2 separate regions of the Homo sapiens genome follow, and region 1 is linked to region 2. Evidence: fine-mapped expression QTL. A gene starts in region 2. The other region holds a variant in brackets. All regions are shown on one strand. Distances are between the middles of the regions.

Region 1 (15,796 bases), 38 kb after region 2:
GCTTCGCCTCCTTCTTCAACTTGGCTCCTGGTCTCCTAGGACAGCAGATACATGTATTCCCGGATGTCCCATATGTTCTTGTGCCCCTTTCATTGGATGTCGAGTGACTAGAAAGTCTTTTCATCTAGAGTTTGAGTTTAGGTCTGGAGTACCTCATAGGGAGGGGACACCACGAGGAAAAAGGCACTGAGTCGTCTGCTCTTCTCTTAAAGGTGGGCTCCCGGCCCCACACTGTTGCCAATGGCCATGAGTTGTTTGAGGTCTCAGAAGAGAGAGATGAGGAGGTTGCTGCATTTTGCCACATGCTGGATATGTAAGAGTTAAAGAATGGGGTGGGATTTGGGAGGGCTATGGGGGATGGGGAGGGGGGCCATCCATTTCCAAACTTTCTTTAGGAGGGAAGAAGCACCATAATAAGTAAATCTCAGTTCATAGCTATGAAAATGCTTCCTACAACAAGTGTCTGCAGGGTTTTTGAAATCTTAGAAGTCTCACATTTTTAGCAAAATTCATGAAACCTCCATTGAATGGTCAAAGTATCCTGATCACTCTAGAGTCTGACCCTCAGTTGCCCTTAAGAGCAAATGCACCCCAGCTGGCGATAAGAGTGTTATCTGGAACTAAAAGAGAAAGGAAATGGATTCATAAAAAATTTTCCATTAAACTTAGCATGGAAAGCTTTGTCATTTTAGAACTATTTGTACTGTTCAATGGTGGGAAACATTTTGCAATTATAAGAGAAGTGTCAAGAAGGGGGTTTCTCAGAGCTGCTACCCCACTGCCCCCATCCTGGCCTGCAAATTTGGAGGGCTGGGCTGAGTGGGGACAGAGGGGCTCTTGAGCCTCAGAGCATGAGGTTCCCAACAGATGTCTTCTTGACTACTCTCTTCTAAAGGCACAGTGAGGGTTTTTTTTCTTCCTGTACAGCCTTCGATCTGGCTCTGACATCCAAGACTACTTCCTCACTGGCTATGTCTGGAGTGCTGTCACCCCTAGCCCAGAGCACCTCGGGGATGAGGTCAACCTGAAGGTGACTGTGTTGTGTGACAGGCTTCAAGAGGCACTCACTTTCACCTGCAACTGTAAGTTAGTGAGGGGGGAGAGGATGTGAGCATCCCTTGAAGTGGGGTGGGGATGACTGTGTTTTGACTCGATTTCCACCTCATCTTGTGGCCCAGATGAAGGGCAGTGAGGATGCTCCTTTGGGGGTGAGGGGCTGGCTATGGGGCCAGCATTCTAGTACAGTCACTTTCCTCAACTCTGAACTACTTGCCTGCTTTATCTGGTTGGTGATGGTGCTGGAGAATACTTAGCTGGAAAGGGGGATCAGGGTGGGGAAACTGAGACCCATCTGCCTTGACATCCATCATGATTGCTCCCCCTACCTTACCCTTCACAGGTTCCTCCACTGTAGACTTGCTTATCTACCAGACCCTGTGCTACACCCATGATGACCTGAGGAATGTGGACGTGGGTGACTTTGTGCTAAAGCCCTGCGGGCTGGAGGAGTTCCTGCAGAAGTGAGTGAATGGGTGGGAGGTAGCCCCTGCCTTCCTGGTAGTAAGATTGTGAGGGGGCTTCATGGGATTGGTGCTGGGACCGGCCTGGCAGCTCCGCCCCAATCCCACAGTCAAGACTCCTGCTTTCTGGGCACACTCTCGGCCACGTAGCACTTTCCCCAGGAGCTCTGTCTTCCAGCAGGGTTGGCTGACGTCCTGAGCCAAGTCTGCTGTGGAAAGAGCTTGGAGCTGGGATTAGGCAAAGACTAGGTCATATCTGCTTGCAGATTCTGCTTATGGAGAGATGTGTGTATTTGTGGGGAGGGGTGGGCTTGGGGAGACTATATGGGTAGTGCTGTATCTCCTGCTCTAGATTATGTGTGGTGTTTTTATGGCTGGGGCAAAATGAGGACTGGGCAGAAGTTCCCTTGTGGAGCCCAGGGGAGAAATTACAATTACTGTCTCTCCCCATTCTCCTGCCAACAAGTCTTTTCCCCAGCTGGCCCGTGCAGCTAGTTATCCTCCTCCCAAAGGCGTGCCTCCAGCTCCTCTCCATCCAGTGCCCTCTCTGGAAAGCAGCCTCCCTGGAAAGTCTGATGTGGACCAGCTGAGGCAACCCCCTTTCCACTACCCTGGGCTCTGGAGGGCTGCAGTGGAAGAGAGGCAGGGGCAAGGTTATCACTTCTCAGATGGTACAGCTGTGTGACAGCAGACAGATAAGATCTGCTTTCCTCTCTTAGGCTTCAGAGCCGCTCCTGCCCCCAGTCTCTGTCCACTTGGAGGAAGCACGTTTTGGGAATAGAGAAAGGAGAGACCTGTGTCTCACTTCTTAGGAGTGCCCTATAAGTGCCACTGCTTGCTTTTTCTCTCTCTTACATTCAGGTCTAGATGCAAGGATGGTTGATCTATGTCTAGAGCATAAGATTTGGCAGTCAGGATGGAAGATTCATTTCTGGACTTCTTTCTTTTTTTGAGACAGAGTCTCACTCTGTCGTGCAGGCTGGAGTGCTGTGGCGCCATCTCACTCAGCTCACTGCAACCTCCGTCTCCCAGGCTCAAGCGATTCTCATGCCTCAGCCTCCTGAGTAGCTGGGATTACAGGCATAAGCACCACCACGCCCGGCTAATTTTTGTATTTTTTAATAGAGACTGGGTTTCACCATGTTGGCCAGGCTGGTCTCGAACTCCTGACCTCGGGTGATCTGCCCGCCTTGGCCTCCCAAAGTGCTGGGATTACAGGTGTGAGCCACTGTGCCCAGCTATCTGGGCTTATTTCAAATTTAAGGATATTGTGGGGTCCTTTCTGGCCTCTGCCTCCTCATCTCGAAGCTAAGGGAAAGGAAAGAGGCAGGGTTCTGTATGGTACAACTCCAGGGTACCCTTCAAATGTGCCCCACCTTTAAACTCACTTATGTACACACTTTTCCCCTAGAGGAACAGGAGGGGTCCTAGACTCAGGGTTGCCTGGCAGAGAGAGTGCCAGGTGGCCTGCCACTGTTAGAAGGGAAAAAGGGGACATAGTGGATAAGTTGGAGCTCCTGCTGACGCCATTACACAGGTTTGAATTCGGACTTGCCACTTACTAGTTGTGAAGGCTGATTGATGCTCAGGGCCCTCTGTAAGCTGCAGTGAGGGTGAAATGTGAGAATGACCTGTGAGCAATCAGTAAATACCAGCAGGGAAGGAGCAGCCCACGGAGAGAAGTCCTAGGGCTCTGGGCTGCACAGATACTGCCATTTCCCTTGCAGCACCCCAAATCCTGGAGCCCCTGGGTCCGGAGGTAGTGGGAGCTGTCAAGTTCTACCTTCCTGCTAAGACTCAGGTGAAATATTCTTAGTGAGGTGGGACAGGGTCAGCGGTCCTCAGATCACACCCCTCATACTCTCACTTGAATGCACAGAGAGGAAGGCCTTCCACAGAGAAGATCAAGCAAGTCCCCAGGGGACCTGTGTGCATGACTCCTGGCCTAGGAGCCCCACTCCCACCCAACAGAAAAGCACAATGCTGTCTCCTGGCCCAGCCCCCAGACCCCCAACACATGACAACTGCCTGGGATGGGGGTGGAAAGGACGCTCCGGGGGTTCCAGAAATCTGCTAGTTCCCAAGGAAGCCCTGAGATTTTCTACCCCTGCCTGGCAGGAGGGGCTGATACTGAGGGGGTGAGTGGGTTCAGGATGCAGGCTGCTCTCAGATAAGAACCTTGAGGCAGTCCCGTGGGAGGGTTGGGTTTCCTGCCACCTCCCCCAGCCCCACCACACTCTTCCTTCCTCCCAGGCTCTCCCACCAGGCCCAGCCCCACAGCCCAGCCTCACCACCTCCAGGTTTTGGCTGCACTTCAGTCTTAGATCTGAGAGGGTCTAGATCGGAGATTTGGTCCTCTCAGGATGTGGAGAACCCCTCACTCGAGCCCTCATGGGACCTAGACGACCCTGGGCCCTGCACCTCCGCCAGCTTTTACATATACTGCCCCCCTTATGCTCCTGTCCTCTCCTCTCCATTTCTGGCCTAGATTCCCAGCTCTGCTGAGGAAGGAAGTCCTTTTCCGGCTTCTGTTACCCAGCTGCTGAGGCCAGGCCCAGGCCTGCAGTGCTGGCCTGGAGGTAGTTCTCCCTCTGCCCCTCCTCTTGGGTTTCCTTGCTGTTGAAGGTGTGATTTGGGAGAGAGGAAGAGGTTGGATCGCCGAGGGCTCCTAGGCCTTCTCTCTGAAAGGGGGAGTCTCACACATGGGTGCTTGAGCAGGTGGGACTGGCATGCATTTGGGACTTTTCAAGAAGTCATAGAAATTTGTAAGGTTATTCACAAGCAGGCAGGGCCAACAGATGGAAGGCAGAAAAAGAAGTTGGGTGGGGACACTGATCTGGAGGCTTGGTAGGCTTGCCCCAAGTTTTTTTGGCCTCAGCACCCTAGTTGGTAGCATTGGAAGAGGGGTCTCTCGCTGAGCTCCCACCCTGGAGCCTGAGCACAGGTGGACTCCAACATGTCTCTTCCTGGTTGTCCCCTATACAGAGGCCCAGAAGATAGGGCTTCAGCAACTGCTCCCTGTGATGTGCCTCTGTTTCCCCGCTCTCTCCAACAGTTCCCAGCCCTGGAGTGAACCAGTGATTACCACACGGGTAATAAATATCTAAGAGAGTCAATATTTATACCGGCCAAGGATTAAGTATATTAGGTGGCTTTTGTTTAGATAGACCTCTGTTCCTTCTCCTAAGCTCTACCGTGTCATTTTCTAGGAGCCAAAGTAGGGTACAACACGGGTACTACCCCCTTACCTAAACCTTCTTTCTGTATGTCTCTCCCCAAGGCTAAGGTATGTATCTCCCTTGCCACTGAGTCCCCAGGATGCTAATGGTCTTGTCCCTCTACCCTACCAGCAAGCATGCCTTGGGCAGTCATGAGTACATCCAATACTGCCGCAAGTTTGACATTGACATTCGGCTACAGCTGATGGAGCAGAAGGTTGTGCGCAGTGACCTGGCCCGGACGGTTCGTGTGAGGGTGGTGGAGGGTTGCCCAGGGCTGGGGAGGTGGAATGGGAATACAATATAGAACACATCAGGTGGGAGGGGGGTAGGAGTGCTGAGCTGAGATAAGGGCACCGCCCCTCTCTGAATAGGTCACTTCTTATACAGGTGAATGATGACCAGAGCCCCTCCACCTTGAACTACCTCGTCCATCTCCAAGAGAGGCCTGTCAAGCAGACCATCAGCAGGTGAGTGTGGGCACCATCTTGGATGTGCTCCAAACAAGAACTGTGCAGGGATCCCATCAGATGTGCCTGCTTGCCTTTCTGTCAGGGCTAAGGGATTCTTGCAGGTGTCAGGGGTTGGGGCCCACACATCTTATCAGAGAAGATCCCCACTCCAGGCATGTTTCATTTCTTCCCTCTGGAACTTTGCCATCATTCTCTCCAGGCGAGAAGTGGCAGAATAGAAAGACTCTCCCTCTATATGTCTTCACAGGACATATAGAAAGAGTGGGAACTCCTTTAAATCAGAGTGTGAGCTGAGGAGAGGGAGGGAGAAAATGGGTTTCCCAGGGCACTGGGTCTTTCATGACCTCTCCTGTGGTTTTTCCCTGCCCCCAACTCCCAGGCAGGCCCTGAGTCTTCTGTTCGACACTTACCACAATGAGGTGGATGCCTTCCTGCTGGCTGATGTGAGTACGAATCCAGGGGCTGGCCCTGCTGCCCGAAAGCTCCTCCTCTCCCCTTCCTCAGTCCTCCTGGGATCACCCAGCACTATGAGGGGTCTGGGTGGAGCCTGAAAATCTGTTGGCAGAGCACTTCTTTTTAACCCCTCGCTCATGGGCAAACTAAGACTACTAGATGTTGGGCAACGGCAAGTGCGTAGTCAGGGATTCTGCTCCTCTATAGAAGAAGCAGGTCGGAAACTGCATGCTGGTCCCATTCTCTGGAATAGGATGTCTCCAGAGCTAAGGAACCTAGAGCTGTCACCCCCCAGCTGCTGCACTTGATGTACACTGGAGCATGCATCCTATGAGCAATGTCAGAAACCTCCAGTTTGAGAGGTTCTGTTTTGCTGTTATCGCAGGTAGGAAACCATCAGGAGGTAGAAGGTTTCACATGTAGGGAGGGCCAGAGCCCTCCCCACTTGGATTCATGCGGAGTCTCAAGCCTCAAAACCATGAGAGTCAACATTTGTCTTAAATGTCACAACGCCAAAGAAAATCTGACAGTGATCTTCAAAAATAATCCCTTGCTGAGTGTGATGGCCCACGCCTGTAATCCTAACCCTTTGGGAAACTGAGGTGGGAGAATTGCTTGAACCCCAAAGTTCAAGGCCAGCCTGGGCAACACAGCAAGACCCCATCTCTACAAAAAATACAAAAGTTAGCCAGGTATGGTGGCACACACCTGTAGCCCCAGCTACTCTGGAGGCTGAGGTGGGAGGATCGCTTGAGCCCAGGAGTTTGGGGCTGTGTAGTGAGCTATGATCACACCATTGCACTCCAGCCTGCGTGACAGAGTGAGACCCTATCTCAAAAAACAAAACAAAAACCAATCCCTGTCTCATTGATCCAGTTAATAGTAGTCATAAACGCTTCCTTTTTGAGGGGTTCAGCATTATGTCTAGTCACTGCCAGAATCCCTTCTCCAGCAGCCTGTGCTTGAACATTTCCAGTGATGCGGGGGAAGCTCTCTGAACACCTGTGCTGTGCTGTTCTGGCCCTTTGCTAGTGGCTACGATGGGTAGAGAAGTGTAAGAATCGTCATAGCCTTGGCCAGGTGCGGTGGCTCACGCCTGTAATCCCAGCACTTTGGGAGGCTGAGGTGGGCGGGTCACCTGAGGTCAGGAGTTCGAGACCAGCCTGGCCAACATGGTGAAGCCCCATCTCTACTAAAAATACAAAAATTAACTGGGTGTGGTTGCAGGCGCCTGTAATCCCAGCTATTCAGGAGGCTGAAGCAAGAGAATTGCTTGAACCCGGGAGGCAGAGGTTGCAGTGAGCCGAGATCGCGCCATTGCACTCTAGCCTGGGTGACAGAGCAAGACTCCGTCTCAAAAAAAAAAAAAAAAATTGTCATAGCCTTTGGGGAGCTTGTGTTCTTGTTAGAAAAATTGAATAGTAACACAAAGCTATTAGTAGACAGAACAGGATGGTAATAAATTAATTAAGGGCTCCTGGAGGATGCTAGAGGAAGGGGATTGGCCAGGGAGGGCTTTATGCAGGAGGTAGAATTTTAGCTGCTCTGTGATTTAAATGTACATAGGTAATCAGAGCTGGACAGGTGAGGGAATTCCAGGAGCATAATTCCAGAGGGGAGGTTATGGCTGTGGCATGTCTGTAGAAATGAGATGAGATCTGTCTGGAAATTCTACAGGTCTCTGGGAGAGACCCTGTATATATGTGTATAGTATAAGTAGACTAACTATAGAGAGAGGCTAGAGATAGGAGGAGCTTCAAGGGGAACGGCTGAAAGAATTGGGGCATGTGGGCATGGCCCATTGAATTCAGTGGGAGAGATTATTTGCTGATGATGAATATTTGAAAATAAAATGTATTGCACATTTACCCCTGAGGATCATGAATCTCTCTACTCTTCCCAACCCTTTCCTTTAAAGACTGGGGTGGGGAGGGGTTGGAGACCAAGAGCATGAGAGCAGAGCCTGCCAGCCTCACTGTGCCACCTCCCACAGGGAGACTTCCCACTGAAGGCTGACAGGGTGGTCCAGTCCGTCAAGGCCATCTGCAACGCCCTGGCCGCCGTGGAAACCCCTGAGATCACCAGTGCTCTCAACCAGCTGCCCCCCTGCCCCTCCCGCATGCAGCCTAAAATTCAGAAGGTAAAGGGGCCCAGGGTGCTAGCAGGGGAAAGGAAGAGAGGGATACTGTCAGGTAACTGAGTTGCCTGTTGCTAGAGTGTGTAGGTGTTCACTCACTAAAAAGGGGCTTCTCTCCACCTCCATCTTTTATGTTTAAGGAATTCAACCGCAAGAGCTCTTCAGAAATGGATGCCAAGTGTGTCTCCTCTTCCTGAGGTTGAGGGAGAGCTACCTGGGACTGCTTGTTGAGAGCCCAGGCCAGTAAAGGCTTTATTCACAGTCACCAAGGCATTGCCTGACAGTCTGCATATCCATCAGGGTGCAAAAACAAACCAGGAGGAAAATCTCTCTAGAGCCAGGGGCTCCAGGACTCCAGCAGGGGCTGTGTGCTCTGCAGACAGGGCCAGCACCATAGGCACTGTGATCTGCAGCCGAGTAGCCTGAGGGTTGGGATATCTCAGAAGGGTGGACCCGATGATTGCTATCCTCCGTCAGCTCACTCTGTCCATCATACAGATCTGGTACAAACCATTACTCTCTCCTCTCTGGGGATTCTCAGCTACTCACATTTCAGCCCATTCTGGTCCAGATGAGCGCAGCTGTGAAAAGCCCTTCTTCCAGCTGTGACGAAAAAGGCTATGGCCCTGAAGCTCCCCTCCCTCTTCTTTTTCCCAACAGGATCCCAGTGTCTTGGCTGTGAGGGAAAACCGAGGTAAGGGAACTGCTCTCCATCTTCATCCAGTCGGGCTGCCGAAAACTGCAGTCTCTGCCCCGATTCCTTTTTCTGCCTGGGCCCCTTGATTTATGTGTCGGAGTTCGGCTGGTGTGTGTGTGTGTGTGGGTGTGTGTGTGTGTGTGTGTGTGTGTGTGTGTGTTCCTATATGAGGTGTGGATACAGCTGGAGAGCACATTTCTTTCCACAAAGTGTTTTCTTATTATTTTTCCTAGTCATTCCTCCTGGTGTCCCTGGGAGATGATGATGAGGGGGTAGAAGTGTGGGAGTGGGGTGGTGGGGCAGCACTAGCCCTGTGATCCAGATGGGAAGCCTCCCACTTGGGTAGATTGTGATTATTCTCCCAACAGCTCACACTTGCTACCTTTCCGATTTAGAGTGGGCCTTGGGAGAGGATGAGAAAGAATTTTCCCTACGATTTTTCTAGGATTC[C/G]CCTGTTGTGCCCTTCAAGCTGAACTTTGCCCTAAGACTGACCTATATCCCTGGGATTCCTTTGTTTTGGTTTTGTTTTTTGTTTTGGCATCCCTGGGATTCTTATGGTGATTCCCAGTCTTTTGGATTTCATAGACCAGTAAAATGTCCCCCAAAGTATTTGGGGGACCAAGAGAGAATTGGCAGCCTTTTACTTGGCCAAACTTTTTTGACTTTTGCTTTTTTGAAGCAACTGACAATAATTATTAACACTGTTTCCTAAAAGAAAGGACATTTTAATGCTAAGTAGCAATACGTAAAAATAAGGATTATGTTTAACATTGTATAACTGTCATTTTATGAAAAGCTCATGACATGCTTCTGCTTTTTTCTCATTTTACCGCAGATGGGTGAACTTTGTCACAGCTATTAGAGACTGACTAGCATTTGGGGACCACTGTCTTAGGCCATCCCATTCTAGCCAATGCCATGGCAACAAGGTAGGGCTTGTGGAGGCCTCATGACTTTCCCTTCTGACCCCTTCCCTTCCCAGAGAAGGTCGTGGAAGCCCTGACCGCTGCCATCTTGGACCTGGTGGAGCTGTACTGCAACACATTCAACGCAGACTTCCAGACGGCAGTGCCCGGGAGCCGCAAGCATGACCTGGTCCAGGAGGCCTGCCATTTCGCCAGGTCCCTGGCCTTCACTGTCTATGCCACCCACCGCATCCCCATCATCTGGGCTACCAGGTGAGCCCAGGGCTGAGTAGCCGCTAGGGAGCAAGCTGAGTTTGACCTCCACCAGGGCTTTTTCCTATCTGCATGTAATACCACTGTCCTAAGTCTTAGGATGTGTGGCATTGTGTGACATTGTGGTGCAATGGGGCTGCGGGGGTGAGCCAAGTGCCTGAGGAGGACTTGGGCTGGGGACATCCTAGAGGAGAGAGGAGGTCCCTTAGGAGATGAAGAAGATCCTGTTATTCCCTCTTGGTGCTGGCTGCCTCTGCATCCCTGCCCCCTCCAGATCCAAGACCAGTGGAAGGAGACATGGCAACAGATGGCCGATTCCCAGATAGAGTGCACGCTCCCTGGCCAGTGGGAGGGGGTGGGGAGGTGGGATTGACCCTTTGTCTGGGGTTCTCTAGGCCTGCAGGGGTGGGTGGAGGAGGATGTTCTTTTGGTAAAATCCTCAGCGCCTCTGTTGGGTCCCCAGCATCCAAGGCCTGAGGGAATAGGCACTGGGCCCTACCCCGCCCCTGCCGGTCCCCTTTCCCCAACCCCCTTCCCCTTCTCTCTTTGTTCCTTACTTAATGTATTCCTCTGGGCGATTGGCAGAGAACAAAGGAGGCAGCCTGGGAAACCGGGGCCTTCTCTGACCTCTTCTGTCAGGCACCTGTCATGAGCCACAGGGACCCCCGTGTGTTGGCATTCATGTCGGCATATGTCGTCTTCCTCCCCCACCCTTCTCACTTGCGCATGCACGTGCACGCGCACACACGCACGCACACACAGACGCTCCATGGGCTGGAGCTTTCTATAAAGAGGCTGGGTGGCCAGTTCCCATTAAAGGAAGAAAAACAACAAGGCTCAGAATGGAGCCTAAAACCGAGCAGAGGAATCTAGATTGAGTTGCTTTGGCCTGAGCACATTTCCTTACATCCAGTTTGGCTGTCCTATCCGGAGATCCTGTGTTACAGCCCTCAGAGACTGAGAGTTTTACCAGGGGAAATGGATTTTGGCCTTAGAGGGACGCATAGGTTTGGGTGATTGGTTTTGGGAGCTGGGTGTCCTGACCTGCTCCCTTTCTTTTATAGCTATGAAGATTTCTACCTCTCCTGCTCCCTCAGCCATGGCGGCAAGGAGCTGTGCAGCCCCCTGCAGACCCGAAGAGCTCACTTCTCCAAGTACCTCTTCCACCTCATCGTCTGGGACCAGCAGTAAGCCCTTCCCCCAGGCTTCAGTGCCCAGGCCACTGTAGACCTGCTCAGCCTCTGAAATATCCCTGGGGCCAGATAACTAGTCCAGGACTAATGATAAAACCAGGCTCCTTGTTAACCCTAACTGGACAAGTCATTCAACCTCTTGAGTCTCCACTTCCCTGACTCTTTTTTTTTTTTTTTTTTTGAGAGGCAGCCTCGCTTTGTTGCCCAAGCTGGAGTGCAGTGGTGCGATCTCGGCTCACTGCAAGCTCTGCCTCCTGGGTTCACGCCATTCTTCTGTCTCAGCCTCCCGAGTAGCTGGGACTACAGGCGCCCGCCACCACGCCCAGCTAATTTTTTGTATTTTTAGCAGAGATGGGGTTTCCATGTGTTAGCTAGGATAGTCTCGATCTCCTGACCTCGTGATCTGCCCGCCTCGGCCTCCCAGAGTGCTGGGATTACAGGCGTGAGCCACCACGCCTGGCCTCCACTTCCCTGACTCTTAAAGGAGCCAAGTATAATTACCACTTCTCAAGTTGTCATGAGGATCCAATGAGAAGTATCTATAAAGGCTCTTTGTAAACCATAAAAAACATATAAATTTTAGTTGTTGACCAGGCGCGGTGGCTTACGCTTGTAATCCCAGCGCTTTGGGAGGCCGAGGCGGGCGGATCACCTGAGGCAGGGAGTTCAAGACCAGCCTGACCAACATGGAGAAACCTCGTCTCTACTAAAAAAAATACAAAATAGCCGGGCATGGTGGCGCATGCCTGTAATCCCAGCTACTAGGGAGGCTGAGGCAGGAGAATCGCTTGAACCCGGGAGGTGGAGGTTGTAGTGAGCTGAGATCGTGCCATTGCACTCCAGCCTGGGCAACAAGAGCGAAATTCTGTCTCAAAAAAAAAAAAATTAAATGTTAGTTGTTAATTTTAATAATACTTTATTTTTTGATCTTGTCTCCCTTAAAGAGTTTAACTAGTTGGAGGGCTTCTCATCCTCTCCCTTCTTCCCTCAGTTCCTGTAGACTATGGAGAGGAGACTGTGCTTTTCCCTTTATATATAGAGAAGGGAGGGTTGTCTAGAGAAAGAATATTGAGCTTGGATTCCCAGGAGTGAGCCTCTATTTCTAGCTCTGTCTCGAATACTACTTTCTCTCTATTCTTTCTGTGCCTCATTTTTTCAAACTGAGAAATGGGGACATTGGTTTCACTCAGAGGCAGTTATGGCGTCGAGATGAGATAGGTGGGTTATAAATATAAATATGAAACCAAAAGCACAAGGTAATATTAATCACCACATGTAAACAATAATTTGGTGTCGGGAAGGTAGGCGTCAGCCAAGCAAAGCAGGAAGGAAACGGAGGAGAGGGTGCCTTGCTTGAATGGGGGCACCGCAGGGGTTTTCCTGCCCTGTGCTTCATCTGTGCTATGCTCTACCTTCCTTCCAGTCAGTCAGAAAATCCCCTGTTTGCTGCCCCCGGCTTTGCTTCCCCACACTGACTATATTAGAGTCCTCATTTGCAGAGCAGCACTGCAAGCTAAGTATTTGTAGCACAGATTAAAGAGACTGAGGAGGGTCCTGGGGAGGCCGAGGATGCAAAATAGGTAGATGAAGAATCTGGAGATGCTGGAAGAGGTGGGTCCTTTTACAGATGGACAACTGGGAAAATGGACCCTTTCTCATGCCCTTCACACTTAGGTAATTCTTAGAGCAATAAAGGTGTATATGGCTGGGCACGATGGCTCACACCTGTAGTCTCACCGTACTTTGGGAGGACAAGGCGGGATAATCACTTGAGATCAGGAATTTGAGACCAGCCTGGGCAACACAAAGAGGCCTTATCTCTACTAAAAAATTATTTTAAATGAGCTGAGTGTGGTGGCGTGCATCTGTAGTCCTAGCTACTTAAGAGGCTGAGGTGGGAGAGTCACTTGAGCCTGGGAGGTCGAGGCTGCAGTGAGCCATGATCACACCACTGCACTATAGCCTGGGCAACAGAGTGAGACCCTATCTTAAAAAAAAAAAAAAAAAAAAAGGACATGGGGTGTGCATTAAAGGTCCTCAAGCAAACAACTGCCAGGACAGGAGAAACTCCTTGCAGGCAGAGGATAGCTGCATTAAATGGCCCTTGAGTTCCACCATTCCCTTGGGATTTTTTGGTCACAATTACTGCTGCTGTCAAGAGAAGGGGTGCCAGCCTGGGCAACAAGGGAGACCCAATCTCTACAAAAAATACAAAAAATTAGCCAAGTGTGGTGGCATACACCTGTGGTTCCAGCTACTTAGGAGGCTGAGGTGGGAGAATCACTTGAGCCTGGGAGGTCAAGGCTGCAGTGAGTATCCAGCCTCGGCAACAGAGCGAGACCCTGTCTCAAAAAAAAAAAAAAAAAAAAAAAAAGGGTGCTGCACAGTGTTCTGGCCCAGGAGGAACTTTAAAAAATTGGCCTTAAACCCTTTACTCATACAGTATCAGAGGTAGAGAGGCAGCCCAGCCTGCCCCATGAGTTTCATTTTGTTCCCTGAGATCCCCACCTTGAATTTTAAAGGGGCAGTCCCCTGCCTAGCGCCTTGTGAAGGGCACTATCTTGCACTGTCCATCCAGAAGCCCCGAATGAGACTTCTTGGCCCTTCATGGTCAAGACCAGGACATTTGGGGGAAGGCGTGCCAGCGTTCAGAGGACAGTCTTTGGGCCAGTCATTCTCTCCTTCCTACTGTAGTTGCAGCCTGGGGCAGGTCTTTCAACCTAGAATGGTAGCGATAATAGGGCCTACCCTACAGGATTGTTTGAGGAGCAGTTAGGACACTGTAAATAAAGTACTTGGCACAGGCTTCTTAGCTGGGGAGCCCTCTTGGTTTTGGTTTCTCTGTTCCAAGTGACTGACAGACTGGCTGATACATGGGGATACGTGCGCATGAAAATACTATCTGTATAAGCCAGTGCCAGTGCAGTAACCACAGCATCACATAGCAAAAAGTACACAGTCTGCACACACATCATGCAAGTGAAGCTATGTTCCCCTTTTCCCTGATGAGAAACTGAGGCACAGAGATGGGAATTAAGTTGCCCAGGATTGTGAGTGGCAGAACCGGGACTGGAGCCAACCAGCACATTCCAGGAATCCTTCCTGGAGGAGGCAGCCTGTGTGATATGAGGTTGTTGAATGGGCTGCAGGAAGGAGAGGGGCTTCTCAGGGAGGAAGGTAAGGGCTGCAGCCAACATAATGGTTATCCTGACCAGCCCTGGGTGAAGATCTGTGGGAGAGGTTGTGGAATACCAGATATACCCAAGGACTGAAGGGAAGAGGGCCTTGGCTGGCTCTGGTTTCACTCATAAAGTCTTCTCACTCCCCTTTTCCTTAAGACACGAAGCTGGAAGCTTCTTCCTTGGGTGAAAAGAAAGGGCTCAGGACCAGCTCCCTCTCCCCTTTGCTATGGGGTCAGCTGATTCTCTGCCCCACTGTAGCGGTCCAGGGATCAGCTAACTCTCAAAATAGGCTCAGCAGCCGTGCTTTGTCACCTCCAGCCAAGCCCTGGCCTGGCATGTCTGCTGGCTGCTGGAGGGGCCCTAATTATAGCTGTGGGCCCCCAGGGTAGAGGCAGCTGGGACAGAGCAGGGCTCTGCCAGTCTGTGGTGGGCTGGAGGGAGTGCCTCACTTAGGTGGAGATTCCTCTGGAGGACAGCGGTGGAGGCAGGCTGCTTTATCATGAAACTGCCAACCTTGGGGGTGGCCGCCCTGCCTCTGCGCCCTCTGGCATAGAAGTTGCTGGGCCCTGGGCTGGCCAGGAGGGTGTGACAGTATGGACTTTGGCCCAGGGACAGCTTCCCCGAAAGGTAACGTGGGTCCTCCCTGCCTTTCCACAGCTCCCCTCCCCTGTGTACTTCACCCCACCCAGCAGTTCCTTATCCTGAGCTTAGAGGGAGTGGCTAGGTGTGATTCAGACTGAGGGACCTGGAGAGAACTTATGGGCTTGAATAGTGGTGGGGCTTATGTGTCTCAGTTCTCTTGGCCCTGCCATTGGCTTTCTCACCACTGGGGTACTTGGAGAAACCCCTCCTCTTTGTCCCTTTGGCTTTGAAGCTGTTTGGGGGTGGGGGTGAGAAAAACCCAGTGTGTGTCCCTGGGGCTAGGTGAAGGGGACTCCTATGAGGACAAGTGAGAGGGCTGTGGGGGAGGGTGAACCGAGGGCAGAGAACATGGTGCTTCTTCCTGGTGGCTCTCAGCAGCAAGAAGTGGGGGAGGGATGGAGACTGTCAAATGGAAAAGGAGGACAAAAGGAGTAGCTTTGCGGACCCTCTGCGGAAATCCTAAAACAAGGAAAGGAGCAAGGCTGACAACATGGGACGTGTCATCACCTGAACTCCGAGGTGGCTCTGCTAAGCAAGTTCTGTCCAGGCACCACGGGTAGCTTCAAAATCGGGATGTTCGCCTCACTCTACTGCAAAGCTCCAAGGACACCACATTGTGCTTCTGGGAACATCCAGTGGGGGTTTTGCCTAGTTTGGGACCTCTCCTGGTTCTGCAGGAGGAGGGCTTCCTCAGGGAGTATGTCTGAACCCTGAGAGGGAGGCTGTATCCTCAGCCTCAGCCTCAGCCTGACTTCCTGGGCCACCTGTTGCTTGAAGCCACAGGAGTGGCCCCTCCTAATTTGACTTCCTGTCCTCCATAGGATCTGCTTCCCAGTGCAGGTGAACCGGCTGCCTCGGGAGACACTGCTGTGTGCCACTCTCTATGCTCTGCCCATCCCCCCACCGGGGAGCTCCTCAGAGGCCAATAAGCAGCGGCGGGTGCCTGAAGCCCTGGGCTGGGTCACTACCCCACTCTTCAACTTCAGGCAGTATGTGAGCCCCAGGGTACAGCTTCTTGGCCTTGGAAGGGGAGGAGGGGGACAGAGAAAGGGGCCTGGCTGCTGCACTGGCCAGTGCGCCTTGGGAGAGTTGGCCATGTGGGG
Region 2 (15,796 bases):
ACTCATTACCCACTGCTTCCACAGCAGTGAGCTAGGCACAGTAGGGAGGAAAACAGGAAATCTGGAAGGAATGTGGGGACTGCAAGGTGTATTTAGAGAATGGGGAATAACTTAATCTTGTTGGAGCAGAAGGAGATACAGAGGAGTAAGGTCACATTGGAGACTACACTTCCATCAGGCTAAGGCAAACGATTTTATCCTACAGGCAATGGTGAGCTATTGAAAGATCGGCTTGTTAACATTGCAAAGTCCACCCGAAATAGCATGAAATGAATCTGTTTGCTTCATTTATGTTGCATCAAAAACACCACAAGTGCCATCTTGTACTTTAGCATAAAATCTTCCTGGAGTGCTTCTTGAAGCTTCTTTATGCAGACTGTTGAACTTAATTTTCCCACTAGAGGGCAGGCTAAACTCACAGATTCTATATATTTGGTGATTCTCCTAGTTCTTAAATTTAATTTCTCCCACTATTTTTAAACTGTGTGCGTGTGGTGTGGTGAGAACACTTGAGATTACACTCTTAGCAAATTTCAAGTACACCATACATTATTAATAACTATAGTCACTGTACTGTATGTTAGATCCCCGAAATTTATTCATCTTACGACTGAAAATTTGTACTGTTTGATCAAGATCTATTTGTTTCCCTCACCTGCCAGCCCCATGGTAATCATTCTGCTGTTTCTATGAGTTTAACTTTTTTGGATTCCACATATAAGTGAAATAATATAGTATTTGTCTTTCTGTTTCTAGCTTATTTCACTTAGCATAAAGTCCTCCAGATTTGTCCATGTTGTCGCAAATGGCAGGATTTCCTTATGTATCACATTTTCTTTCTTTGTTTCTTTTTTTTTTTTCTTTAGATGGAGTTTCACCCTTGTTGTCCAGGCTGGAGTGCAGTGGCATGGTCTCAGCTCACTGCAACCTCATCCTCTGCCTCCTGGTTTCAAGTGATTTTCCTGCCTCAGCTTCCCAAGCAACTGGGACTACAGGCGCCTGCCACCACGCCCAGCTAATTTTTGTATTTTTAATGAGACAGGGTTTCATCATCATTTTGGCCAGACTGGTCTTGAACTCCTGACCTCAGGTGATCTGCCCACCTCGGCCTCCCAAAGTGCTGGGATAACAGGCATGAGCCACCGCACCCGGACCCCATATTTTTTATCCAGTCACCTGTAGACAGATACTTCTGCTGATTCCACATCTTGTCAATTGTGAATAATGCTGCGATGAACATGGAAGCACAGATCTCTCTTTAACATACTGATTTCATTTCCTTTGGATATATTCCCAGAAGTGGGATTGCTGGTTCTTACAGTAGTTCTATTTTTAATATTTTAAAGGAAACTCCATACTGTTTTCCATATGGCTGTACCAGTTTACATTCCCACCAACAGTGTACAAAGATCCCTTTTCTCCACACCCTCGACATCACTTGTAATCTTTTGACTTTTTGAGAGTAGCCACACTACCAGGTGTGAGGTGATATCTCGTTATGGTTTTGCCTTACACTTCTCTGATGATTAATGATGTCGAGCACCTTTTCATATACCTGTGGGTCATTTGTATGTCTTCTCTGGGAAAATGTTGATTGAAGTCCTTTGCACATTCAAACAAAATTCTGGTTATTTGTTTTTGTTTTGTTTTGCTATTGAGTTTTATGAGTTCCTTATATATTTTGTATGTTAATCCCTGATCAGATATATGGTTTGCAAATATTTTCTCCCGTTCTGTATGTTGCCTTTTCATTTTGTTGATCCCTACTATAATAATCTTTAAAGGGATGTTTTTTACCCTCCTTCTCATCAGAATTACTGCCTTTGGAAAAAAATCACCATCAATCTGATTACCCACTGTTTCCACAGCAGTGAGCTAGGCACAGAGGGGGAAAGTTGTGGACCCTTCCTTCCCAGAGTTCCCCAAACCAACACCAAGTCGTAGCTACCTACTCTGGGGCCCAGTCTTCTATCGCCACAGTATAGTGCATAGAGTCTTTGGAGCTGACACCATCACAAGGTACTAAGAAGATGTATAGTACAGGTTGTTTTTGTTTGTTTGTTTGTTTTGAGACAGTGTTGCAATCATAGCTTACTGTGACCTCAATCTCCTGGCTCAAGTGATTCTCTCACTTCTGCCTCCAGAGTAGCTGGGACTACAGGCATGCACCACCATGCCTGGTGAATTTTTTTTAAAAATGTTTTCGTAGAGATGGGGTCTTGGTATGTTGCCCAGGCTACTTTTATACTCCCTTAGCTCAAGGGATCCTCCTGCTTCAGCCTCACAAACTGTTGGAATTATAGGCATGAACCACCATGCCTGGCTGAGCCCAAGAATCTTACATAGCATCAAGAGCTCAGATACTGGAATAAATACTCCCTAAACAATGCAGCCCTCAAATGTCATGGATCATTGAAAAGGTGTAGGGAAGAAGTAGGACTGATTTCAAAGCCAGTAAGAGTCAAAGGATTGAAGAAGTCAATCTATACATAAAATATTTACAGAGCACCCCACCCCATCTCTAACATCCAATCATCTTTCAAAGATATTTGAATATTTTTGAAGAAAGCCTACTGAAGGATTTTAAAATAAAATTGTTATAAATACTGTCTTTCAAAATATTAGTTTTGAGTTGTATTACAGATTAGTCCTAGCCTAGAGCAGACCTATGAGAGAATATAGCACAGATAAACAGATTCTACCATCATCTCCTTCCATTGATTTCAGCCATTTGCTCCCTCACCAGTAATCTACTTATTATTACCACTGAAATCTTTTTTTTTTTTAAGATAGGACCTCAACTCTGTTGCCCAGGTTGGCATGCAGTTGTACCATCATGGCTCACTGCAGCCTCGACCTCCTGGACTCAGGTGATCCTCCCACCTCAGCCTCCTGGGTAGCTGGTAGTACAGGTACACACCACCATGCCCAGCTAATTTTTTGTGTTTTTTGTAGAGATGAGGTTTTGCCATATTGCCCAGGCTGGTCTTGAACCCCTGGGCTCAAGCAATCCACCAGCCTAGGCCTCCCATAGTGCCAGGGTTACAGGCATGAGCCATCACACCCGGTCACCACTGAAATCTTAGACTCTCAAGCTTTTCATTTTCTGGCTCAGTCACTCTGTCTTCCTGTAAACTAGATCCAGGTTTTCATCCATTCACTTATTGACCAAGAATTTATTGAGCACCAGCTTTGAATGAGGCAATGAATTAGGCCTAGAAATTCAAAGGTAAAAATAATGGAGATTCCTTGTCTTTAAGGCGCTTACAGTCCGTTGCCCTCCTCTTCTGTCCCCTCCCCAATTCAGAAAAAAGTGGACAAGCAATTATATATAACACCCATGATCAGTGTTATAATCCAAGTAGCTATTGGGTGTGTCTAGACACTCTTAGGAGGCACTCTAGGGAAACTTTGCAGAGAATTTGTTGTAGGATGTATTAGTTTGTTATTGCTGCTATAACAAATGACCACAAATTTAGTGGATTAAAGGAACACAAATTTATTATCCTACAGTTCTGCAGATCAAAAGCCCAACATGGGGTTCACTGGGCTAAAATCAAGTATCTGCAGGGTCATGTTCCTTCCTGGAGGCTCTAGGGCAGGATCTGTTTTTTGACCTTTCCAGTTTCTAGAGGCCATTCACCCCCTCCAGCTCAGGACCTCCATGCTTCAACTTTCAAGCCAGCAATGTTGCATTTTTCCAACCAGTCTTGCGTCATCACATCTCTCCCTGACTTCGGCTAGGAAAGGTTTGCAGCTTTTAAGGACTGACGTAATTAGATTGGGCCCACCTGGATAATCCAGGCTAATCTTCCACTCCCAAGGGCCTTAACTTAATCACATCCGTAAAATCCTTTTGCCTTGTAAAATAATGCAGCCATAGGTTCCAGGGATTAGGAAGTGGACATTTCCTCCTTTGGGAGGCCATTATTCTGCCTACCATGTAGAGAGACAGCTGCATAAAAGGAAGCGGGTAGAGGTGGGGATTGGAGGTAGGAGGCCCTTTCCAGGAAACCATGTGGAAGGGCCGTTAGGTGAGAATATTGTGCATTCTAGGAACTGTAGGGAGTTTCGTAAGGCCCAAGTATGAAGTTTACATTGGAATGTGGGAGGCTATTCATTCAATACATATTTATTGAATACTATGTGGTGGGTGCAGTTTGGGAGATGCAGGGATGCACAAGACAAAGTCCTTGTTCTCTGAGGCTAGAATGAAAAGCAAGGGCTGACTGTGAGAGAATTCAGAGTTTCCTTAGGAGATTGGACTTTAAGAGTTAGAGAAAGTCATGCATTAATTCATCTGCCAAAAATTTTGTGAGCACAAGTGCCAGGCATTGTTCTAGGCTCTGAGAATACAGATGTTTAAAAACCAAAGTCAAAAAATGCCATGTCCTACATGTTAGTTGATTTTAAGCAGGAGAAGCAGATGTTTGCTTTGGAAACATCACCCTGGCTGGGTTACTTGAGAAAAGATTGGAAGGGGAATAAGATTAGAGGTAGCTCAGTCCCTTTCCTCCCGCTTCTTGAAGATTCACAGCCTTTGCTGAGCTTCACTTCCGTCCTTGAGGACTTCCTCTTTTGTCAGGAGCCCTCTTTTCCTTTTATGCCTCTACTGTACCTATCTTGGAAACCTGACCTCATGTTCTACACCTGGGCTTCCAAGTGCTGCAGAAGAAAATGATGAAAACATTCGGATGTTTTTATTCATAGCCACAACATATTAGAGTATCCAATGCCAGCTGTATCTTCAACTCTGCTGACAATTCTCTCTCTCTCTCCTCTCTCTGGAGCTACCACTCTCATTCCTTATTCCTTTCTATTTTAACCTTAACCACTTTTTTTTTTTGAGATGGAGTTTCACTCTTGTTGCCCAGCCTGGAGTACAATGGCGCGATCTCGGCTCACCGCAACCTCTGCCTCCCTGGTTCAAGCGATTCTCCTGCCTTAGCTTCCCGAGTAGCTGGTATTACAGGCATGCGCCACCACGCCCAGCTATTTTTGTATCTTTAGTAGAGACGGGGTTTCTCCATGTTGGTCAGGCTAGTCTGGAACTCCCGACCTTAGGTGATGCGTCCACCTCGGCCTCCCAAAGTTCTGGGATTATAGGCGTGAGCCACCGTGCCCAGCAACCTTAACCACTTTCTTTAAGCCTTTAACCTCATCTTGAGCCTTTCTCTCTCAGCAGATTGCTTAGAGACTACAAGGCAGCAACTAGTCCTCTCAACATCTAGTCTCAAGTTCTAGTCTCTTTACCAGTCTACAGATGCCTCTGCTTTTGTACAGCCTTCCTCTCAAAGATATCAGAGGCAGCTCCACCCCATATACCTGGGTCCCAACTCCCTCCTATTCATGATCTCGCTCTCCTTGGTCTTACTCTTCAGCATATGAAAATGCTTAAGCCTTTCTTATCCTAAAAAGAAAAAACAAAAGTCTCCCCTTTGATCCTGCATTCCCCTCTACCCACTGCCTTATATTTCTCCTTGTCTTAAATTGCCAAGCTTCTAGAAAAAGCATGTGTCTTTTATTCCAGATCCAGGTTCATTCATTCACTTAGTGACCAATAATTTATTGAGCACCAGCTTTGAATCAGGGAATGAATTAGGCCTAGAATCCACTGGAGGCATTTTCTAGCCTACCCTCCTGGAGGTTCCTGCTGCACTGGTTATCCAGTCATTCTCTTCTGAGATTCTCCCACCCTAGTTTCTGACACTCTGTGGCCTCCAGTTTTTCTCTTACCTCTCTGGTTGTTTCTTCTTTCCTCCTTATGCCCATCTGGACGACCTCATACAGGCTTATAACTTCACTGACTACCCATAACCTACAGAATCCAAAGCTGCTATCACTTGTTCACACCCCAATATGAGTTTAGTTTCATAAGTTTGCTGTCTACTAGACATCCCCATCTAGACATTCCACAGATACCTCAAACCCAACATGTTCAAAATTAAGCTCAAGATCCCTCTGCCAACACCTGGGCCCTGTCTTTCTAATTGTCCCTAACTTAGGGAATGGTACCACCTGCCAACAATTTCTAAGGCTTCAAATGGGGAGTAATTCCAGAGTCCTCCTCTTCCCTAATTTCCTACATTTTATATATTTATCAAATACTATTGATTTCTCTTTATAAGTATCTTTTGTATCTGCTCCGTTTTTTTCATCCCCACTGCCACAGCTCTGGCACAGTTTTGAGATTCCCTGATTTCCCACCTGGAACGTAGCCATGGTTTCTCTGTTGAGCTCCCAGGCTGCACTCCTGACTTGTGTTACTAGGTCCTGGCAGAAAGCAAATGGCACACTGCACTTGAGGGGTAATTTGAGGAGAGGTTAAAAAATAAGGGGACAATTTATAAAGGGTCGGCGGAGTACAGGAAAACCACAAGAAATAGTGTACAATCTACTAGGGCCAGTAGCAAATCAATGTTTCCACCCCCAGGCCCGAAAAGTCAAAGGAGGGGAGTGATTACCTGAATCAAGAGAGAGGGAGGGGGCTGGCACTGTGGCTCACGCCTGTAATCCCAGCACTTTGGGAGGCTGAGGAGGGTGGATCATGAGGTCAGGAGATTGAGACCATCCTGGCTAACAAAGTGAAACCCTGTCTCTACTAAAAATACAAAAAAAATTTGGCCGGGCATGGTGGCATGCGCCTGTAGTCCCAGCTACTCAGGAGGCTGAGGCAGGAGAATCGCTTGCACCCGGGAGGCAGAGGTTGCAGTAAGCCACTGCACTCCAGCCTGGGCAATAGAGTGAGACTCGGTCTCAAGAAAAAGAAAAAAAGAAAAACAAAAGAGAGAGGGAGGGGAGAGAGAACCACCCGTGGAAGCTGTGATCTTTGGTTGAGGGTGGCAGCCAGCGCACTGTGACCCCAAAGAGAGGAATCCTGAAGAATAAATATCCAGTTTCCCCTGACCTCCCTCCTTATTCAATCTTCAGCCATGGCCCCCATTGGCCAACCCAGTCTAGGAAGCCAGAGGGCCAGGAAGATCTGGAGGGGCAAACGGAAGACATGCAGTGCATCTTCCAAATCCTTCTCTATAATATGCCAGGAAGTCTTTTTCTGGTCACACTACTTCCCAGTTCCATTTGTGCACAGCAGGTTCTCTGTCACCTACAGCACCTAAACTTTTTGGCATGCCCTGGTTTCTCTTTATTCAATTTTTTCCTTACCAAAATGCATGATAAAGCCTGTGATCTGATCCTCCACTCAGCTACCTATGCCTACTTCCTGTTAGTTCTTTCCTTCAGACTTTTCACCCCAGCAGCATAGAACCACCAGTGGTCGCCGGGCGCGGTGGCTCACGCCTGTAATCCCAGCACTTTGGGAGGCCGAGGTGGGTGGAACACAAGGTCAGGAGATCGAGACCATCCTGGCTAACACGGTGAAACCCTGTCTCTACTAAAAATACAAAAAAAAAAAAAAAAAAAAAGAAAAAATTAGCTGGGCATAGTGGCGGGCGCCTGTAGTCCCAGCTACTCCGGAGGCTGGGCCAGAAGAATGGCGTGAACCCGGGAGGCAGAGCTTGCAGCGAGCCGAGATCACGCCACTGCACTCCAGCCTGGGCGACAGAGCAAGACTCCGTCTCAAAAAAAAAAAAAAAAAAAAGAACCACCAGTGGCCCCTGTAACACTCTGTTCTCTCAGGCTCCTGAGCTTGACCTGATGACAGACACAGAGTAAGCTGTCATAAATATTTGTATGGTGAAGAAGTGCACGGACACGTTTTTTAACCCCTGTGGCTCCTGAGATCAGGAGTAGCATCATATACATTATGACATATGTGCAGACCAAGCTGCCTTCAGTTAATTATCAAGATGTTTCACCTACATTCTCTCCTTTGATCATTACGAAAGCGTGATAGGTGAGGACGCTATTCTTGATATTCAGAGGGTGAAGTGGAATACTGAAAGTCACAAGCATTGGGTACAGAAGGCACTGTAGGATCAGAAAGGGGAGTGATCCCTTTCCTCCCCATCATAAGAGTCACAGCCGACACTTCTATAACAAAAGACAAGTTAACCAGAGAAAAGCATAACAAATTTATTTAATCATGGTTTTACTTGAGAGGCTGAGGACCAGGTGTTAATCTTCATAGTCTGTCGAGAAAGAAAGAAGAAATGAGGGCAGTGGAGGAAAACACGATTCACGTTTTTAGGAAAATATACTTTGAGATTAGTGATCGTTGGTACTATGCAAACCAAATGCAAACGAGGAGCTGGCCAACTCATGGTTTCTTTTGGGTGGAGCCTTTAGGAAAATTCTTCCAGAGACCACTGCTGGAAGAAAGGTATTTAGAGTAGAAAATTTAAATATAACATATTGTATGAAAGGTTTTTTTTTTTTACTTTTTTTTCTCACTACCCTAGTTGGGTTGGAGGATCCTCTATCTCCCCTCCCTACTTAGGTTGACTGCTGTTTCCTGGATCGCAGCTCGGAAGATCCACCTGGGCGAATACAAAAACAAACGAGACTCCCCTTCCAGAAAGGGAGGAAGGAAGGAGACAGAAAGACGAATGACACTGAGCGTGTAAAGCCCGGAGACAGCCTCTCTCTACCCCAACCTAACCCTCAAGGTAGGGGATCCCCCGAACATCGCTACCGTAATTATGGTAGAAATTCCTGAAACGGATAACTGGACCTCAGCACCGTCATTTCTAGCAGAATGATTGAGCTTTCCTCTGACCCAAAGCCAAGGGGTTCCAGCAGGGGAAACTAACGACCATCCGCAAAAACCCTCACCCAAGTGGGGAGTGGAAATCCTGGCTCTTGGGTTGCAGAGCACAACTTGACGCCAGCGCGTTTCTCTTCCCCCACGCAATGGCAAGTGGGGCGGGAGTCGGAGGGGAGAGGAGGAGAGGAGAAGAGAAGAGGAGGGGGAAGGGGAGGGGAGAGGCGAAGGGCGGCCCGGGTTCCAGCAGCCGCCCCGCCCTCCGGCTCGCGGCGGATTCGGCGCTGCGGCTGGAGCCGGCGGCCGGGTGCCTGCCTGTCCAGGCAGGGTCTGGCCGAGCGTCGCGTCGCCGTGCAGTGCGCCGGGTGTCCGGGAGATGGCTTCCCCTCTCTCGCCCGCTGCTGCCGCTATTGTCTCACCCGGGGTGGCCTGACTCTGCGAGCTCGCGCACGCTCTCGGCGGAGAGCACCCCTCCCCACCCCCACAAGCTGGTCCTTGCGCCCTTTGCTGCCTCTCCCTCTGCCCCTTGGAGCCTAGGGTCTGTGCGGAGCCTGGAGAGGGGAGCGGCCCGGGAGCAGGCGGCGTGCGGCCGGCCAGCTCCTCTCGCGCTGGTGCAAGAGGCGCCTGGAGCCGCAGAGCGAGCCCGGGAGGCGCGGAGCGAGCAGCCCACGTCGCCAGGCACAAGACACGTCGGATGTTGCAGCAGAGCCAGCAGCTAGCGCAGGTAGGACACGCATCCTGCGGGTTGCATCGGCCCCAGCGTCTGTAAAGTGCCCCCAGAGTGGAGGCAGCCGAGGTCAGGGGGCTCTCCCTCCAACATGGCAACAGCGGAGGTGCAACAATGGAAGCAGCCGAGGGTTCCTGGCGGCGGGCTGAGCGGCGGACGCCGTGGGAGCCTGAGCTCCTGCCCGCCGGGCAGAGCAGGTTGCCCCTCACCCCACTCCACTCCACTCCAGCAGCTTCAGGGCCTCTGGGGCTCCAGGCACCCGCGTCCCCACCCCCTTCTCGCTAAACACACTTCCTGGCTCCCAGCTGCAGGGCGATCTGAACCAGTCAATGGCTTTGGGGTTTGTTTATTTAAGATAAGAAATAAAAAAAGCAAAACCTGTCCTGTGATGGGGTTAGTGCCTTCTGTGGACTGGGTGAGAAGTCGGCATCTAGCCTGGGGAATGTGTACGTTTCTTAGTCGGGCGGAGGGTAGAATTGGATTCTCCCTTATAAGGATACTGCAGCAAAAGGAGACTGAAAGCTTGAAAGAGGGAGAGGGACCCTCAGGCCTGAGTTCGCCGGTGCTGGGAGAAGGCGCTGCTCTCCTGGCCTATACTTGTCCCTCATTTTCAGCTCCCGACAGCGGTGACTTTGATGTTGGAGGAGCAATCGCAGCAGGAAGCACAAGCAAGGCTGCCAAGCTGGTGTGGGGTGGAGTAGGGTGGGGAGCCCAGGGGCTTGGCAGGCTTCTGGATTGTGGGAAGAGGTTACCAAATGTATGAGGTTAGTGCACACACCCTAGTTGGCTGATGTTGAAGTGTGTGTGTGTGTGTGTGTGTGTGTGTGTTTTCTGCCATTGCTCTTGCTCCTTCAGGCCTGCCTTTTCTCCTCTCCACCCGCTTCTGGGGTCTTCGTAGCTTCCCTGCCCCAGCCCTTCCAATCATGCCTGGGATGGAATCGCTGTATTGTCTCTGGCAGCTCTCTTGGGCTGTTTTTTCTCAACTCTGTTGGAGAGTTTTGTACCCTGGGCTGGCTGGTCCCAGCATGGCACCAGATTCTTTAGCAGGCGGCTACCCGGGCTCCAAGAAGTGGGCCAATGCTGCCCCTCCTCCTTGCTCTAAACTACCTATTTGGGATATGGCCAGGCAGATGTAAGCAATTTGTACTAAATTCCAACCCTGAATCAGTGCTGAATGAAAACTTACTCTGTTGCTGCATCAGGCTTTGGGAAGATATTAGGAAGAGAAATGGCCCAGGAGGTGGCAATGCCGACCCCCAAATACTTCCCTCTCCCCAACTCCAGCTGCCGATCCCAGAGCAGACAGGCAGTGAGACTTTGGAATCCCAGCTCCTCCAGAGTCTGGCTGGCCCATCTTGAGGTTGTGTCCATGGAAAAATTAAGTCGAGGCACATTTTATAGCTCTGCTTGGCAGCCAGCATCTGAAGAGATGGTGGCTCTGAGCTGGAGCCCTAGACCCAGGCTGTGGCTGCTTCTCCTTTGGCCTTTGGGTGAGCCTGAGGTTTGATTGCCATGGCTCTGAGCTTACTGCTGAGTGTGTATGGCTGAATCTGATCAAGCTCTCAGACCCGGCTGCTTGTCTATTTCCTTCTCCACTGGAAGCATGAGTGAGAAAGGGCCAAGGGGGTGTGCTGGGTGAGGAAGGGTCAGTTTATCTGGGGACTTGGGCTGTTTCTGGGGGAGCTCCTTTGGACTTCCTTGGTGGTCTGGAATGCCTTTGGTCTTTGTCATGACCTAGTATGCTCTGGCAGATACTCTATACCCTCGTGGGCCTTTGGTCCCCGCTTGGTGGTGTCCCCACTCCTCCTGTGCCTGGTGCTTTGCATCTATATCATGTCTGTGGTGCTTCAGCTGGGATGGCCCTGGCCTGGACCAGTGGGTAGAAAAATGAGGTCTCTGTTCCTTTTAGGGGCTTGTAACTAGCTATAAGGTTCAGGCTCCTCATGTTCCCAGGATGTGAACTTGGACATCATAATGTGAAGTAGTAGAGAAAACAGTGTCTTGGTGTGACTTTCTTTTTAGCTATGTGAGCACAGACAATTTGTGGACCTAAGATTTAGTTTGTATATTTGTAAAATGGAGGTGGGGGAGTAGCCATGGCTCACAGGATTAATAATGAAATGCTGCTTACCAAGAACTAAACAGAATCATGTGTGCAAAAGTACCCTGAAAACTACAGAGTACTTTACAAATGATTATTCTTACTGGGTTTAGCCTCCCACATAAGGGAGGGAGATCTGTGAGGGATGGGGATAGGGTGGGATCTGAGGGCCACATGGAGTAGGGAATGTTTTGGGACCTTTTCTTTCTTGCTAAGGAAAGAGTAGTGTGACAATACCAAGGTAACTGCTGTATTCCTTGGGTATTTTTCTTTAAATAGTGTTGGCAGGATGGGAACTGGGAGAGAAGGAAAGGATGCCTCATGATATTTGTAGGAATTGAGGAGGGATAAACACCTTCCAAAGGCTGGCTACTGCCTATAGAGAGGATAATGCTGAGCTGGCAAGTAATGTAATCACTAACACTCACTGATGTCAGCCAGCTAGTAAATGATAGAGGTGGGATTTGAAGCAAGCAGTCTCACTCCTTACCCTGTGTTCATAGCCTCAGTGCTACTCAGAGAGATATTGGGTCTTGGGAGAACAGAAAGGGACAGCAAAATTGTGGAGTTCATTCTTTTTGTTTGTTCTTGAGACAGGGTCTCTCCCTGTTGCCTAGGCTGGAGTGCAGTGGGCTCAAGTGATCCTTCGACCTCAGTCCCCACCCTGAGTAGCTTGGACTATAGGCATGCACCACTACATGTGGCTAATTTTTTAAGTTTTTGTAGAGATGGGGTCTCAGTATGTTGCCCAGGCTGGTCTCAAACTCCTGGCCTCAAAGGAACCTCCTGCCTTGGCCTCCCAAAGGGTTAGGATTATAGGCATGAGCCACTATGTCCAGCCTCAGAATTCATTTTTTTTTTTTGAGACAGAGTCTCACCCTGTCACCCAGACTGGAGTGCAGTGGTGTCATCTCAGCTCCCTGCAACCTCCGTCTCCCAGGTTCAAGGGATTCTTGTGCTTCAGCCTCCCGAGTAGCTGGGATTATAGGCGTGTGCCACCATGCCTGGCTAATTTTTTGTATTTTTAGTAGAGACAGGGTTTCACCATGTTGGCCAGGCTGGTCTCGAACTCCTGACCTCAGGTGATCCACCTGCCTCAGCCTCCCAAAGGGCCAGGATTACAGGTGTGAGTCACCATGTCCAGCCTCAGAATTCATTCTTAATGGATTCCTTGAATGCCCATGAGACGTCACCAGCCTGGGACATCTCATGGGCATGTAGGCATAATAAATTTTTCTGGGCCTCATCTGCTTTTCTATGCATTTTTATTTCTATGTCTACCTTCCAAGGAAGGAAGAGATGTGGGATAATCTGATCAAGTCATATTGCTGCCTTCTGAGCAACACTAATAGAAGGTTTGGGACTTGGAGGATCCTGGGGAAATTAAGGCAGATTTCTTGTTTTGGTATTTTCATATCTGCTTTATTTTGCATCTGTTTTATAAAATGAAACTTGAGGGACTATTCTTGCCTTTTTTTTTTTTCTTTTTCTGTTGAGACAGGATTTCACTATGTTGCCTAGACTGATCTCGAACTTCTGGTCTCAAGTGATCCTCCCACCTCGGCCTCCCAAAGTGTTGGGATTACGGGCATGAGCCACCTCTCCCAGCTTGTTCTTGCATTTTGTAAGATCACATAGAGTATCAAAACTGGAAAGGACCTGGGCCATCACTTCCCTGAGAAAAAGTGACTTTCTCAAGGTCATGCAGTTAGTAGCAATGCTGGAACTGAACGCCTACCCCGCAGATCACAACATGACCCGTGAAAGGACCTATCCTGCAACACTTTGGAGTTTCGTGCCGACCCAATTAGTGGCTTTGTCTTTGGGAAATTTACTTCCCCAAAACACTGGGACATTGGGATGGAATTCACTCACCCCAAATCATCACCCTGGTTAAGGAGACTAAAGAATCAGAAGACATTTGTGCTTTGGGGAGCAGAGGCCCTCAGGGTATAGAGAAGGAAGAAGAGAGAGGTTCACTGTAGTCCTGAAGCAGAAATAAGACCTGTGGCTGAAGGAAGCCTTAGCAATTCACTCCTTCCTCTTCCTGAGAACTCTCTGTAGGAAGTCTCACCTAGCAGAGGCTTCACAGTATTTCAGAGAAGCCAAAGATTGTTTGCCTCTTTGGAAACTGTTATCCTTCCATCATGACTGTGTCACTCCTGCCACTGTTCCACCATAGAGGTGGGTGCCTAATATTAGAGAGTTGTTTCACACACGTGGCTCATTCCTCAAGCCTCGCTAAGCCAAGCCCACCAGGAAGAAGCTTGAGTGGAAGCATTCTCTCCAGCCACATCTTTCTCTCTTTCTCTCATACTAGATGGCGTCCTTTGCAGCAAACCGTAAGTTATAAGGATGAGGGAAGAAGAGTAGAGGGCCAAAAGGATTCCATTTTGAGGAAAAACTACAGTTTGCCTTGCCAGGTAGAAGAATCAGGTATGAGTTCTTTTTGTCTCAGGTAATAAACTAAGCAAAGCCCAGATAGTAGTAATGATGGAGCCCTTCAACTATTGACGTCTCCCTAAGAGCCCTCATTTTCTGAAAGCAGAGTGTTTGTCCCATTCCTGACTCGCCATGCTGTGTGTCTCCCAGAGAGTGAAAGAAATTGCTGTGACTGCGAGCACCAGTAGAGTGGATTTAATTCTCACCAAGAAAAGGGAGGTGGTTTGCAAATGGGTTGTTTTGGGATCCTGGGAGAGGAACATTGTAGCCAGAGATATTAGATTTTCACTCTAGACTTTAAGGAGGCAGATTTTTTTTTTTTTTTAAATTAAAAGATAGGGGCCAGGAATAGTGGCTTATGCTGTAATCTCAGCACTTGGGAGACTGACATGGGATGATCACTTGAGCCAAGGAGTTTGAGACCAGCCTGGGCAACATAGCAAGACCTTGTCTCTACTAAAAATAAAAATAAAAACAATTAGGGTGTGATGGCGCACACTTGTGGTCTCAGCTACTCAGGAGGCTGAAGTGGGAGGATCTTTTGAGCCCAGGAGTTTGAGGCTGCAGTGAGCTATAATTGCACCACTCTGATTGCATCCAGGTTTCACTGTAGCCTGGGTGACAGAGTGAGACCCTGTCTCTGAAAATAATAATAATAATAAAGAGCTTGTACAATTAACTTGAGAGGAGCCAAAATTTGAGTCTAGGTCAGGAAACCTCTAGAACCTGTGTTCCTTCTGTGCTATGCTGAAGGGGACTGTGAGAAAAAAAATGTTCATGAGGCTCGAGTCCTGAATGAGATGGAGCTTCCCCAAGAGCCAGTAATGACACAAGTGGTTCTTAAAGTCATTTCTGGAAGACAATAGGATCACAAGGGTTTAAGTCTATCAGATCATGTTAAAAAGGAACTCATTCATTTATTCATTAATTTGACTAACATCTTGATTGTTTACTAGTGACTTTAGGTACTTTTAAGTCATTGAGTGGGGGAAATATGGGTTGCCTTGTGAACTCATCAGTGGGGCCTTTTTGATGGTCAGACTTCTTGGAGGAAATTAAGTGTTTGCAGAGATCTGAACAATGAGTAGGAATTGGGGCAGGATGGGGAATGGAGTGTGGTGAATGAGGTGAACTGAAAGCAGTTTAATCTCGCCAGAGCCACTGAAGGAGTTTGCATTTTATCTTTTGGGCATTCATTCCACCATTGTACATTGAATGTGCACTGACACTCTTCTACGTGCACAGCAGTGAAGAGGACAGGTAAAACCCTTGCCTAGTGCTTGGTGTTCTGAGAAAACTTAGTTCACTCATAGTTCTTAGTCCACTAAGAGTAGTTCACTAAGAATTAAACCAAGCTTTTTAATGTTACTGACAGGAATTCTATACTGATAGATAGGGAATTACTTGGAGAGATTCTCTAGTTGAATGCAAGGAAAGTTTGAGAAGGACTCTCATGATAATCCTATAGATTATACAGGGTAGAGACAAAAGGTGGGTTAATGATTGGTTGATTGTTCATTCAGCAAAAACATCTTCAGTGCCTCTTCTCATTCATTCTTACATTTATTCACTCATTTATCAAATGACTGGCAGTGCAAGTTCGGCAGATGGTTAAGAGCACGGCTTTGGAGCCAGATTACTTGGGTTCAAAGCCTGGCTCCACCACTTACAAGCTGTATGACCTTGGAAAAGTTATTTAACTTATCTGTGCATCACTTTCCTCATACGTAAGATGAGGGAAATAATAATACCAGACAAAATTTGTTGTAAAATGAAATGAGTTAATTAATGAACTACTTAGAGCAGTGCCTGATGCATGTAAATGGTGACTCAACAGCTCATGGTTCTTGTAATTATTATTCCT

The links. PIP is the estimated chance that this variant, and not a neighbour inherited with it, causes the effect.
Region 1: its variant is fine-mapped to the expression of PIK3C2B in whole blood (TOPMed, PIP above 0.99).

What each region holds. Positions count from the first base shown.
Region 1 is chr1:204,449,736-204,465,531 of GRCh38, reverse strand. It overlaps PIK3C2B (phosphatidylinositol-4-phosphate 3-kinase catalytic subunit type 2 beta), which reads left to right. Exons shown (of 33, transcript NM_001377334.1): 3 at 213-313; 4 at 928-1,082; 5 at 1,400-1,520; 6 at 4,871-4,982; 7 at 5,129-5,208; 8 at 5,591-5,654; 9 at 7,658-7,804; 10 at 8,462-8,495; 11 at 9,481-9,676; 12 at 10,741-10,863; 13 at 15,515-15,682. Among named protein-coding and RNA genes, the nearest start is that of PIK3C2B, 37 kb to the left of the region's middle. RefSeq lists silencers at 3,037-3,331, 8,145-8,345 and enhancers at 7,216-7,715, 7,716-8,217, 9,725-10,702, 12,295-12,404, 15,559-15,796. The variant C/G (reference allele first, on the strand shown) is at 8,949.
Region 2 is chr1:204,487,946-204,503,741 of GRCh38, reverse strand. It overlaps PIK3C2B (phosphatidylinositol-4-phosphate 3-kinase catalytic subunit type 2 beta), which reads left to right and starts at 8,937. Exons shown (of 33, transcript NM_001377334.1): 1 at 8,937-9,386. LOC124904584 (translation initiation factor IF-2) reads right to left here and starts at 11,991. Exons shown (of 2, transcript XM_047439554.1): 1 at 11,981-11,991; 2 at 8,010-9,566. The coding sequence starts at 11,991. The coding sequence ends at 8,546. RefSeq lists silencers at 8,788-9,257, 10,817-10,896 and enhancers at 9,358-9,487, 9,558-9,747.